3 separate regions of the Homo sapiens genome follow, and regions 1 and 3 are each reported to be linked to region 2. Evidence: microRNA targets listed by miRTarBase, many of them from high-throughput screens and not tested one by one. Region 2 holds a microRNA gene; each other region holds the end of a gene's coding sequence.

What was found. Region 2 holds the annotated microRNA hsa-miR-7852-3p (UAUGUAGUAGUCAAAGGCAUUU, at 1,825-1,846, shown strand). A microRNA usually pairs through its seed, bases 2 to 8, with sites in the 3' UTR of a target mRNA and lowers its output. Matches are read on the target gene's strand: a 7mer-m8 pairs with bases 2 to 8, a 7mer-A1 pairs with bases 2 to 7 and ends in A, and an 8mer does both.
Region 1: the mRNA of RDX is a reported target of hsa-miR-7852-3p. Seed matches in the 3' UTR shown: 7mer-m8 at 1,687-1,693.
Region 3: the mRNA of DCUN1D1 is a reported target of hsa-miR-7852-3p. Seed matches in the 3' UTR shown: 8mer at 2,738-2,745 and 7mer-m8 at 659-665.

What each region holds. Positions count from the first base shown.
Region 1 is chr11:110,228,205-110,232,571 of GRCh38, reverse strand. RDX (radixin) reads left to right here. Exons shown (of 14, transcript NM_002906.4): 14 at 539-3,131. The coding sequence ends at 703. Among named protein-coding and RNA genes, the nearest start is that of RDX, 66 kb to the left of the region's middle.
Region 2 is chr1:107,895,458-107,899,457 of GRCh38, forward strand. MIR7852 (microRNA 7852) reads left to right here and starts at 1,766; the gene lies at 1,766-1,847. All of the region lies in intron 1 of VAV3 (vav guanine nucleotide exchange factor 3), which reads right to left.
Region 3 is chr3:182,941,560-182,945,926 of GRCh38, forward strand. DCUN1D1 (defective in cullin neddylation 1 domain containing 1) reads right to left here. Exons shown (of 7, transcript NM_020640.4): 7 at 1-3,614. The coding sequence ends at 3,535. Among named protein-coding and RNA genes, the nearest start is that of DCUN1D1, 37 kb to the right of the region's middle.

The DNA of each region.
Region 1 (4,367 bases), not on the chromosome of region 2:
TACATAATCTTAATTATTTGTTGAGATTTTATATTGGCAAAAGGTCAGTATATTACATGGACATAACTAGGTCAAAGTAGAGGATTTTAATATTATGAGCTTTCTTTTTTCCCAATAAGTTATCTAATATTTTAATTGTTAAAATCTTTAAATATTAAAAGAAAATGAGGTGATAGTTACAATAAATGTATTAAGACTTTTGGAGAAGGCTTCCCTTGAGGTATAGATTTTAAATCTCATAGTAATATTAGTCTGTAATGGCTACATTGAACTTTTTAGCCATTTCAAGTATTAGATTAGAAAGTTAAGGAAATTTAGAATAATGTACAAAATACCATGGTTGATAAATGTGGAAAGGCCATGTGTATTCCTCCCTTACCACTGCCACCACTATTACTAAAACAAACTTATACCTAAAGAAAAAGGTTTCACAGTGGAAATGATTTGGTATATGTATTTTTGCATCTTAAAGCCATTTTCATAAATTTTTTTAAATCTAAGAAAAAAATAATAGTTGTACTTTTTATTTTTTAAATAGGCATTAAGTTCAGAATTAGCCCAAGCCAGAGATGAAACCAAGAAAACACAAAATGATGTTCTTCATGCTGAGAATGTTAAAGCAGGCCGTGATAAGTACAAGACTCTGCGACAGATTCGACAAGGCAATACAAAGCAGCGTATCGATGAGTTTGAAGCAATGTGAGAGCTGTTATTTTGCATATATGTTCTTCATAAGCTGAACCACCAACAGAGAAAAGCAGGCCTTTGCAGATATGATGGAATGCATCCCACCTTGCCAAAGCACTTACACCAGTTTGACTGTGCTAGCTAAAAGACAAATTTAAGGGGAGCTCTTCAACATTAAGGCAGTATGATATCATGCTTGGTTTTCTTTTTTCTTTTGGTCCAGGGAATGGAGAATGGTGTTCCATTGCCTCTTTTCACATTTTTTTTCTTTTTCTTTTTTTTTTCTGTTGAAGATTAACACTAATTATCACGTCTGACAAATGTGTATGTGTGGTTTCAGTTCTGTGTACATTTTAAAGGATAATGGTGAACATTTTAATGGGTTTCCCTTGCCCTTTCCATATTTAACCTATTTCCACATTCTCTCTCACTCACATTTTCTCAGTGTGCCCTTCTCTTATCTGCCATGTCCATAGCCATAATTCCACCATCATACAGATCAGGCAGTGTTTAAAATGATGGTAGGTAGCACAGTGGACAGTCTTTGATCATCATGTAGAATATGGCTATGAATCAGGAAAGAGATTAGAACATTTAATAATGTATGTACAGCTGGTGCTTAGTTTTTTTTTAATCTAAATTTAATTACCTTATTGGATATTTGATATTTGGTTATTTAATCACAGTCATCTTTAACAGCTTACACTGATTGGTGTTTTATCTCCTGTGATCCTTTGATGGCTTTTTTTGCCTACCATTTCACAGAGGTTTAGACAGCAGTAGTAGCTCCCTAGGAGAGTTTACTGATGAAACAGCCTCTGCAAGATTTTAAAAGTTTTGTTCTTTTATAGACTGATTTAGAAAAACAAATGATTAGTTAAAAAAAGAAAATATACATTTGTTGGTAACTAATGTTATTTTTTAAAACCTGGACCTTTTCTGGAAGGGCAGCATATAAAAACATCAGTCCCGAGGAGGGGACAACAATACTACCTCACTACTACATCTGTGATGACTGGTTGTTCAAACACAATGGAGTGTGTAAGGTATATGTTTTATAATTCATAACCATAGCCTCGATCATCAAGAAATACTTTCGAAATTTCATTTTCCTTCAGAATATCTTAAGAGTGCTAAATTTTTAACTGCCTTTTTGTCGAGTCAAACTGTGGGATTCTGATTTGTATTAAAATTGTAAGCTCCTCACTGGTATACTATCATCCTGGAGGGGTGTTGTATGGCTGAGCAAGAGAGAGAGAGAATGAGAGAGAGACTGTGTGTGTGTGTGTGTGTGTGTGTGTGTGTACTCTGTGTGTGTATGAGAGAGAGAAATGCTAACCTTGTAGCATGTGAAGAATGTCTGTACCTTGATACGATAGTTACATAATCAGTATATTTGGTTTCTAGATCACTGTGCTTATTTTGTTTCAATCTCTGACTAAAAATACTTAAATTTGGTTTGTTAATTCTTATTTTAGAAATTATAATTTTAGTTTATATTAATTTCGGTTATAGCTTACTGAAGAAATCTTTCCAGTTAGAAGGAGGTTCTAATATTCACATGTTCTAATACTTTGTTTATTGTAAAACAGCTAAATTTGGAGATACGTAAAGCCTTGTTTTCTCTGTGTGGTTCAGCTACTTTCCATTTGGTATTACACAGTCAAATTTACATTTATCTATTAAAATTGCCATTTTATTAAACATTTTCATGCACAGTAGATTCAAGTTGTGTCTGAAAATATCTCTTGTGCTTTTTTGATTTTGCTGACTTTAAAAGGATTAATCTGGGCAGACATTATGTAAAAGAAAGGTTGCGTTTAATATATTTTTTGAACTTTGTAGGACAAAACATAGCTGGTTAACCTTGAAGTGACTGTTGTACCATGGTTGTGCACATGCTTCAGAATCCTATGGAAGAGAATATTCCTACTTGCAGTACATCAAAGGAATGGATGGTGGACCCTACTATTCATGTTTTGAGACATAAATGTTCACTTTAAAGCAATTGCATAATAGATAAAAACCTGAACTTTCATTGGATTTTTGTTAATTTTCCTCATTTTGAATTATGTGCACTACCATAGCTACATCAGTTTGATACAGTATTGAAAAATTATCAGTTATATTTTGCTGTTTATGATCTATTTGTAGATTAGGATTAAAATGGATTTAATCCATTTTTAAGGCTGTGTGAATTTTTCTAAACAAGAACCATTTGCAATATGGATTTCTTAGAGATTAAACCAATTATAACTTATTAGCAGTCGCGAGCACATGTTCATATAGTCAATGTAAAAATACACTAATGAGTATTTGGTAAATCCCAGTAGGCTTTTACCATTAGCATAATTTTGTGTTGTACAATTAAGTTACAATTACATCTCTAATTTTGGATAATATTCATTGGTTAACAATAAAGTGACAAAAGCTCATGCCTTCAAGGTCCACTGTTGTTATTTAACATGGATTTTTTGTATGTTTCTTGAAAATTACAATCTTTATCACAGCCATGAATCACCACAACTTAAAAGTAAGAAGTAGATAGGAAATAATTTTAAATCCTCATAGATCTACTCTTTCCCCGATACCTCTTTGGTATGGAAGTAATAGTGATTAATTCTGTGGAAAAGTTAAATTATTAAATTAAATTGACTTTGTTGACAACAAAACGTAATTTAGGGTTTCCAGTCATTGCCTTTATTGTATAGTGGTTAGTTTCTTTTTCCTGAGGAAGATACAGTTTCTTGTCATTGATTGATCTCACTATTAACATTTCAACATTCTTTAAAGAACTGTATGCTAAGTATATTTATGTAAGTACATGTTCTTATTTTGAAGCTGTATTATAGAACAGTTACTATAAATCTAGAAATTGCCTTTTTCAAGTCTTCTTACTAATTTTTAACTTAAATAAGTGATAAATCTATAAAAATAGTAAAAGCTAGATTTTTTTGTTGATAGTAATATTTAACTGTCACTTTATTATTTCTGTTCTCAAGGACACATAGTGATTTTTTTACTCTGATCCTGTCAGAAAATGGAATTTTAAATAATATTTTGCTTTATGTCTAATTAGAGTTTTAAGAACTGGAATGGCCCCTTATAAAGTTATGTTAGATTTTATTGGAAGTCACTCTTATCATTAGAAGTGTTTCAATATTATTGTGTTTTTTTTTAAAATCCCACTGTATTCTGTCCCAGTATTGATCACCGTGTTGATTATTAATGTTTTTAGAAATGAAAATAATTTTTTAAATTCACAGGCATCCCATTTTACATATGCACAATAAAAACAATTAGTCTTAAAAGTTAAAGCTGGAAACTAAAGTCTAAGGGATTACTAACTTTAGCATTAACATACTGAACTAATGAGTAAACCAAAGCTTAGATACCATTAGTAAGAATAAGAGAAAACAGTTCAGTGTGGAGCTGTACTGTTAGGTTCCTCTCTTAAGTCTGTTCTAAATGAACAGAACTTTAGCATTTTCTTAGTTTGTACCACTTCCATTTTTTTAACCTATCAAATATTCTAATGTGGTCTGTCAGATGGAATGACAGTATTCTAGCTCATACAAAAGCTCTTTGGATTCTGCAAATGTGTTTGATAACTTTATGAAATATTCAGGCAGCCTGACCCCCCACAGTCTACGGTAGTAACTAGGAAAAGCTGGCTCACA
Region 2 (4,000 bases):
ATCCAGTTCTCACAGCTACCCCCATTTTACAGATGAGGAAACAGAGGTAGAGAGATGTTAAATAGTTGCCCAATGTCATACAGCCAATAGTTAGAGGAGGTAGGATTCAAACTGAGGCAGCCTGGCTTCACAGTTACTAAACTATGAAGTTACTAAACACCTCACTATGCCTTTAGACTACCCAGTGACACAGGAAAGAAAAACTGGTATTATTGGCCACGTCACTGATTTCTGTACACTTGTAAAAGACTTACAATAAATAATAGAGTAGCATTTTTATTAAATAGTAATCCCACCCCAATCATGTGTCCTTGCTCAAAAATGAATTAGTTATAAATTTTGCATATTTTTACACAACTGTGAAATTTTATACTTAATAAACATTAATCACATAGCAATATGAAAATTCTTTATTGTTACTATGCATACTGAACTCACAGGAAATTACCCCTGAAACAATTCAGCAGTAACACCAGGAAACTGCTGCTACACAGAAAGTGCTCAATGAAGTGGCACCAGAAATGTGGCCCAGCGGGGATCCATTTTCAGCTTGGACTTCTTGCAGGAAGTAACTCTCCGTGCCAGAGGTGCTGCCACACACTTTCTCCCATGGCCACAAGCACCTGCAGGATTCTAATTCCATCAGAACAACACAGATACATAATGTTCAATTTAGGCAGCCAGAGCACTGCAGAACCATGGAGCCATTTCTGTAACTTACTGGTTGGCAACCTGCATTTGGCAGAACATACTGGACATATATCAAATGTTAAAAAGAAATCAATTGATAAAGCTCTCCACTTAGAGACACAGACTTACTTTGAGCAAGTCCTTAAGAAAAGCAAGTGGAGTGCCTCTCCCCATCCCCACCCCACCCAAGAGCTATCAATCTTCCAATCAGGATCATCACTGTCCTCTTTCATCAAATTAATCGCACAGCAGCCATTATTACCAACTTGATATCTAAAATGCCACGTACATTCTCTGTATTTATTGTACTGTTATTATTGTTCTGTGTTAGTGACTTTAACTACAAAAAACTTATATAAAGACTTTAAGGTATTTACTCACAAATTTGCTCTCCTGCATCTATGTTTACTAGAAAGTCCTTTAGTTCCTCAAACACAAAACCTCCTGCCACAATAAATCTAATCGCAACCCAAGCCTCATGTACTAAGATCAAGATCAGCAGAGGTTGGAGGTGTGTGATTCTATATGGTTGTTGTAATTTTATATTTAAAAAGACTGGCAATTTTGTTATTAATCAGGGATATAATCTGTATTAAAAAAATGGCTACAGGAATGTCATGTTCCGTTCCATTTATACCACTTTTCAGACTTAAACTGTTTTTGTTATGTATTAGAGGGGAAATATGAAACATTTGCCAGTTAGTTTACAATGGATCACATGTGGGACTAAAGAGTTTGACTCCAATCATTGATCAGATCTTCAAAAAAAGCCCCTCTCCAGAAATAGACAGGAAAATAAATCTATTCTGTACAAGACACTGCACAGCACTCAACAGATAGAAGGGTGAGAAAAACAGACTTTCACCCAAAGAAATCCACAGTCCACAATAAGGTTTAAACAGTACCCAGATGGCAACACAAGGAGCCGGAGCAGCACTGACACCTGCCATAAGTGCTAAAGACCCAAAGTAACTGCCACTGTCCTGAGAATTCCCAAGGGAGGAGGTTTGGCTTGGCCTTGCATCTCTGTTGCCTAGAGACACAGCAGTAAATATATATTGAACAACTAAATTAATAAATGCCTTTGACTACTACATACATATGCCTACTACTACTTTCATATGTAGGCATATGTATGTAGTAGTCAAAGGCATTTACATACTTCATACAAAAAGACCACTGTGTCTTAAAAGATCAGCTTTTCTCTACAGAGAAAACCATGAGAATTGAAAAAGTAGAGGGAGAAAGAGAGAAAAGACAAGAAGAGGTGAGTATCAGGAGCAACAGGGGAGGGAACAGGAGCAACCAGGACCCAGAAAGGGCATATGGAAAGCTGAGAATGCCACGAGGGAAGGAAAAGGAGGAAGTGAGGCAGGAAAGGAGCTACCCACACAGCACCAGGGTCGCAGTTTAGTCAAGAAGGCTTTAGCCTCCTCTGGGACTTCTAGTTACACTATTTGGCGTCCTGCACCACCTCAGGTGCATTCACCCTGCCCATGACACCACGGTAACTCAGTAAGTGCATAAACCATAGACTGCAGTTCCTCAGAACCGCTTATCTGAGACAGCATGCTGGTACTTCCTGAATGGCAGCCTGGCATTCTGAGATTATACTCTTCCTTCATGTATGGTGCTAGAATCGGTCCTCTCCTTTATGAAATGAAAGGGATAGTACACATTAAGACATATTTTATGAAATTTTATTGCTGTACCTTACTTTCTAAAATCCCCTCTTGCTCTTTTCCCTACACTGTTCAATAAAACCCAAAGTCTCATAACCACTAGAGTGTGCCACATCTTAAAAGATTTTTTATGAAAAGCTAAAAAGTTTAAAATATGAGTATGAAAACCCTTACCTAACTTGAAAACTATTAGGTAAAATGTTTTGTTCTCCAGAGATTTTAGATAAAAATAGGTTTTATTACTCCTTTGGGCAAAGAATGTCATTATTAAATTAAAAAAAAAAGGAAGCAGATCAAAACTCAGCACCTGTTCTATGACCTCATTTTGGAAAATATGGGGGAACGAGTATCATCACGTGAATACATATATATAATGCATGTATACATGTAGGGAATTACACACAACAAATTTAACAATGGTTATTTCTGGGTAGTGAGAGTTCCTCTTATTTCTGCTCTCTTCATAAGTAGAAATTACTTTTATAAATAGAAGAATTCTACAAATATGAAAAATAAATGTTTTTACTTTGAAAAATAAATGTGAGAAAAAATAACATGAAAAAATATTTGTTATCAACTCCATGAAGAAACAGCAAGTTTCCACCACAGCCAGTGGCCTTCTGAGTGAAGCATGGTTTTCTGCCCTACATACCAAGCCTTTAGACAAGGATCTCTTTATAAGTGCTCTGTTACTTAATACATCCATTTACATTATTACCATAAAGATGACTTTTCCAAAATAAAGCTTTCAATCTCTAGGGTCCCTGCAGGGTAATAGGAAGCATTCAGCAGATTACTGTTACTGTAATATGTTTTATTACACTTAATGACACAGATACTTCACAGTACTGGGATTTTTGTAGGTATTTAAAAATGTATCTCCTATAAAAATATATCTACTGAAAACACATATCCCATAAAATATGTAAGTAAAATATTCATGCAACAGATTATATACTATACATGAACATAAAAAACAAAACATCTTTTAAACTATTCTAAGCAATGTAGTTCCATTTAAAAACAAAGTATTTTAAGTAATGGGAAGGTTCTTCATTCTAAAAAAATAATAATGTCTCAGTCTAAGAAAGGGATACACTCAGTCCATTTGTCAACAAATACCCTCTGAGTACTAAGGATGTAGAGATGAACTAGATGCAATGCCTTCTCTCCAAAAGCTTACTATACATTAGAAAAACAAACAAATGAGTTCAATAAATGGTTCAAGTATATGATGAAGATGATGAAAGTATGTATGTGGTTCTGAGAGGGCACAAAGAATAAAAATGGTTGTCCTACCTACAAGGGTGGGGGCAGAAAAGTTTCCTAGATGACTTTTTTCACAATGCAGTTATTATTTCCTAAAAATAAATTATGAAAGTATCTATTTCTTTTACTAAGCATCTAGAAATATAGAAGAGAGTGTCAAGGGCACAGTCATAGAGATATATTAATAAAAAAATGTCTGGGCTGAGCCAACAGCGGTAAGCGGCCATCCAATCATCTCATTCACTGCATGTCATTTTTGAGCACTTATTAGGTTCTGCGCAAGGTGCTGAATAAGATGTGGTCCCTCATGTTCAACGACCTTACAGCCCACTAGCAAAGAGAAGCAGGAATAAATAATA
Region 3 (4,367 bases), not on the chromosome of region 2:
TTTAAAAAAACATTTTATCATTACATTATCAAATTTGATAAAATCTTATGAAAACATCTAAGTATTCAATATAAATCATACTGTTAAAAGTATAAGGTAACATTAAAACTGCTGAGGTGCCAGATAAGTATTTTCTGTTAAATATACACAATTTAACATTTAAAACTACATAAATTAATTCTTGCTAAAAGTTGATTCAGTTTTACAAAGGCATACTTTGTGAACCATGGTGAATTTCCCCAGCACCACTTTTTTATTCCAAAACTCCTTCGATTAGGTTTAACTTTCTCCTGTCATTCATATGTGAAAATTACAGAAGGTTTACAATACGTAGTCTTAATAGTAACATGTTTAAAAACCTAAGCAAAGTGTACATTAAGTTAGCTACTACTACTCACTTCTTGATTATCATCAAATAAAAAATAAATGAACACTTCATTCATTTAAGTCTGAGGAAAAAATAGTGTACCTTGCTTAAATAAGAATTCCCCAGTAAAGATATTACGTAAAGGATTTCTCATGTTATTTTGTTGAGTAAATTTACTTTCTCTCATTAAAACTTTTTAAAAGTCTAAGGAAGGACATGTACTTATAATGCCATATTATGCAAGTACAGTATTGTTAATAAAGCAGCCCAGTATAGTTGTAAACATCTTAAATGTAGTAAACAAGACTTGGCATGTCTTTTCTCCCCAAAACATGCCATTACAATGCTCTTTCCATGAATAATTATTCTTCCTAGAAAAGTTTTCAGGTATATTTTAAATCTATAAAAAAAATACACTGAAATATGTGAAAAGATTTAGTCATGGCAATTTCACTGCAGCTTTTATTGCCTCTGTTGGTAATATGACAGGGACTGTAAGAAACACAATTGAACTTACAGAGATATGCAGATGATATTCACTAAAGATAATCTTCATCTCAAGTATTTTTTATATGTGGGCACTTCTAATTTTATACATTTTTCTATTTAAAAAGCATTACATTTTAAAATTTGTACCTGTTTTGACATTTGGCAAAAAGGAAACTGTACCTATGGTTCAGTTTAAAACAAAGAATCAGCATGGGGAGTTTACCGGAATGAGGACTGAAACACTTAGGAGTTAAAGCAATTCAAGGGGCGTGTGTGTGTCTCTCCCTTTCTCTGTCAATCTCTCTCACTCTCTCTGGCTCTCTCACAGACACAGACTCAAACACACACAGCCATATGTGTAATCATTTTTTAGTACAAAATATTCCCTGTAGCCAGACATTTATCTTCAGAATAATCACACCACATTAAATCAGTCTTCTCTTTTCAGCCCTAGTAAAAGTTTTGTTTAATTCTAAGATGCCATCATAGTGAACAACCTTAACTTTTATGCTACATAATTATATTCAAAGCTTTATGTATTTTTGTTTATAATTACACAGTAATTATAAATGTTTAGTACCAACCTGATGACAAACACTATTTTGTTGAAAAGGTTTTGCATTTAAAAAGAAAAATATGTAAAATCCAAGGCACTAGGCCACGAACCAATATGACTTTTAAAGAAAACACTTTATATTGAAAAAAAAAAAAAAAAAAAAAAGCTAATGGGATCTCATTTCAAAACACAGCATATGTGAATTAATCAATCTGAAACCAATAACCATAACTCAAAATCTTCAAGACAGGAAACAAAACAGTACATATATATAGATATATAGATATATATATCTTTTAAAAATTTTTCATAATTGAAGTTCCTCTTTATATTTACAAAAAAATCAGGAAATACTGAAAGCAGCAAGATTCTTCTTTTTCCTTTTTCTTTTAATAACCAATTCCAGTAGCCTGAATAGAAATTTTCAAATTTTTCTTTTGGTAAAACTGCATTCTTGAATTAAAGTTATGATTGGAATATTAATATGTCTATAGGGAAAGCTTTCTAGTCTATTTCAAAATCATGTAAAAAGCAGTTTTGATATGTCATTGTTTCTTAAAATAATTTCCATATTTGCATAAAATGTACTGCTATTCTAAGTACATTCCTTTGTTAATATCAACCCTAGACCTTAGAGAGTGCCTGGATATATATCCCAAGCAGAATCTATTCCTATCAAAAGACCATAATCATCAAACATTTGAAGTATTACATTTCTAGCCTGCCTTACGGAAATGTTTAAGAAAGCAAGAAACCCTTCTTCACATGTCAGTAAGTGAACAGGGAAATGACCATTTTCAGCATAAAAGCAGCTCATGGGGCTTGTAATGAAAAAAATACATACAAGATAGCATTCTGCTTTGATGAGAAAACTGAGCTAATCTGAGTGAAACGAAAACAGTAAAGAGACTAGAAGCCAGATTGGTATTTTGCATCGTGTATGCTTGTTTGAAAATCTTTGCTCCTGAAGTAAATATTTGGCAACCACAGTGATTAGCAGTTAAAGCAATTTCAACAAAATAATAAGTCATCGAAAATGGACTATTTGTCTGAAAGAGCAGTACCTATATTATAAAGATTGAACTTCATGGCTCATTACAACCATTTTCAAAATTTAACTGCAACTATCTTCTTATAAATTAAGAGAATTCCATTTGTGTTCCATAGTGCGATGACAAAAAAAAAGTAAAAACAAAACAAAAAAACCCTCATGCCTAAATTTAGAATATTGTATTGTGTAGCAATCCAAAACATTCAAAACAAATTAAATAGTTTAACTTATGTGACAGGCAGATAAGCATTTCAAAAGCATAATGAAGTCCAATTATGTAGTGCATAATGTAGACAGGAGAAGAATCTAACATTATGCAGACATTTTCTAAATAAAAGCTCCCTGTAGGACAGCTATATATAAACATGGGTAAGGTAAGCGCAGACTAGTTCTGTGGAACCTTTTGAAATCAAGAGTCTAAAACACAATACATTTTTCAGGTAGGCACCAAGTTATCCTAAAAAATTTTCATGTCGGTTATTCTGACATTGTTTTTTCATCAGATACTCACATCAACAACACATGTGATTTGCCAGGAAAAAAAAAAAATTCCCCCCAAACCAAAACACCATTCCAGATCCAGTACACTTAAATATATCACTCTCACTGGAAGTGCTATTAGCATAGTCTTTGCAACTAGCCCAAAGCGTATATTTAAGAAGTTTTTATAAATTGTTTTGTGATGTTCATATGTTTAATTCTTATGCCAACTGTTTTCTGATGAAGACAGCATTGTGCTTTATGCGAGAATGAAAACCTCAAAATAATCACCATAAAGCTTCTAAGACTTATGGGAGAATAAACTAGGATGGTCCACAGATATAAGATGAAATCCACAATGTTGGAATTATAAATGTTTAGAGCGGCCCAGACTAGAAGACAAGCCCAAACCACCATTAGAAGAATGAAATACGATATGGTCCAAGATGTATCCTTAAAGTTTTGTCTCAACCCTCAGTCTGAATTGTGAGGATTGATCTTCAGTTCAGTCCAGCCAGCAGAAATTGACTGTGCAATTTTCTGTTGTATTTATTGTACAGACTATGTACATTCTAGAAGGTTCCTTTAGTGCTACACTGTTGTACTTTTTGTCCCAGCAATTTGAGGGCGTGCAAATTCCACAAAGTCATCAATAAGAACAGGCCATGCTCCTGGAAAAAAGAAAAAATATGAAAGAAAGAGAAGGGGGAAAAAAGCAGAAATAAGGCTAACATTTTAGTAGAATCCTTTTTTTAAGACTTCCTCATAAGCGTTAAAGTATATCATTCTTATCTATTCCCACTGATTAAGTCTTTCAAAACTCAAACTTTTTGGAGTTTTTACCCCAAATATTCCTTGTATTCCTTGTGATTTATTACTCCAACATTTGGTTGTTCCTTGAGTGATAAAAGTAACTTGTCTGGCAACTCATCAATAATATGATTTTCTCAAGGCCACTGCAGTCAGCCAATGGAAGTAATTTGGTCAAAACTGGCAGCCTGAGGCAGGAGAATGGTGTGAACCCGGGAGGCGGAGCTTGCAGTGAGATCGCGCCACTGCACTCCAGCCTGGGGGACAGAGCGAGACTCCCTCTCAAAACAAACAAACAAACAAACAAAAAACTGGCAGCCTAAGGAGCAGCTATGAAATGATAGCATGCTGCCAGTGCTGAAGGCATAGGAGGAGAAACAAGTTTTCAAGCATTCTGTGGCCATCTCACAAAGGAGATTAACAGGAAGTGTCAAATTCCATCCTATTTCATGCTAATACGTTACTAAAAGGTGTAAAATTGCATATATGCATGCCTCTACACATTCACATGCCCATCACCAAGTCAGAAAGCTCTCCATTTTTGTGTAAAACCTACCAGAAGACACAATTATTAGGTATATGCAGGATTAAACATTTCTCACTTTGCAGGGAAG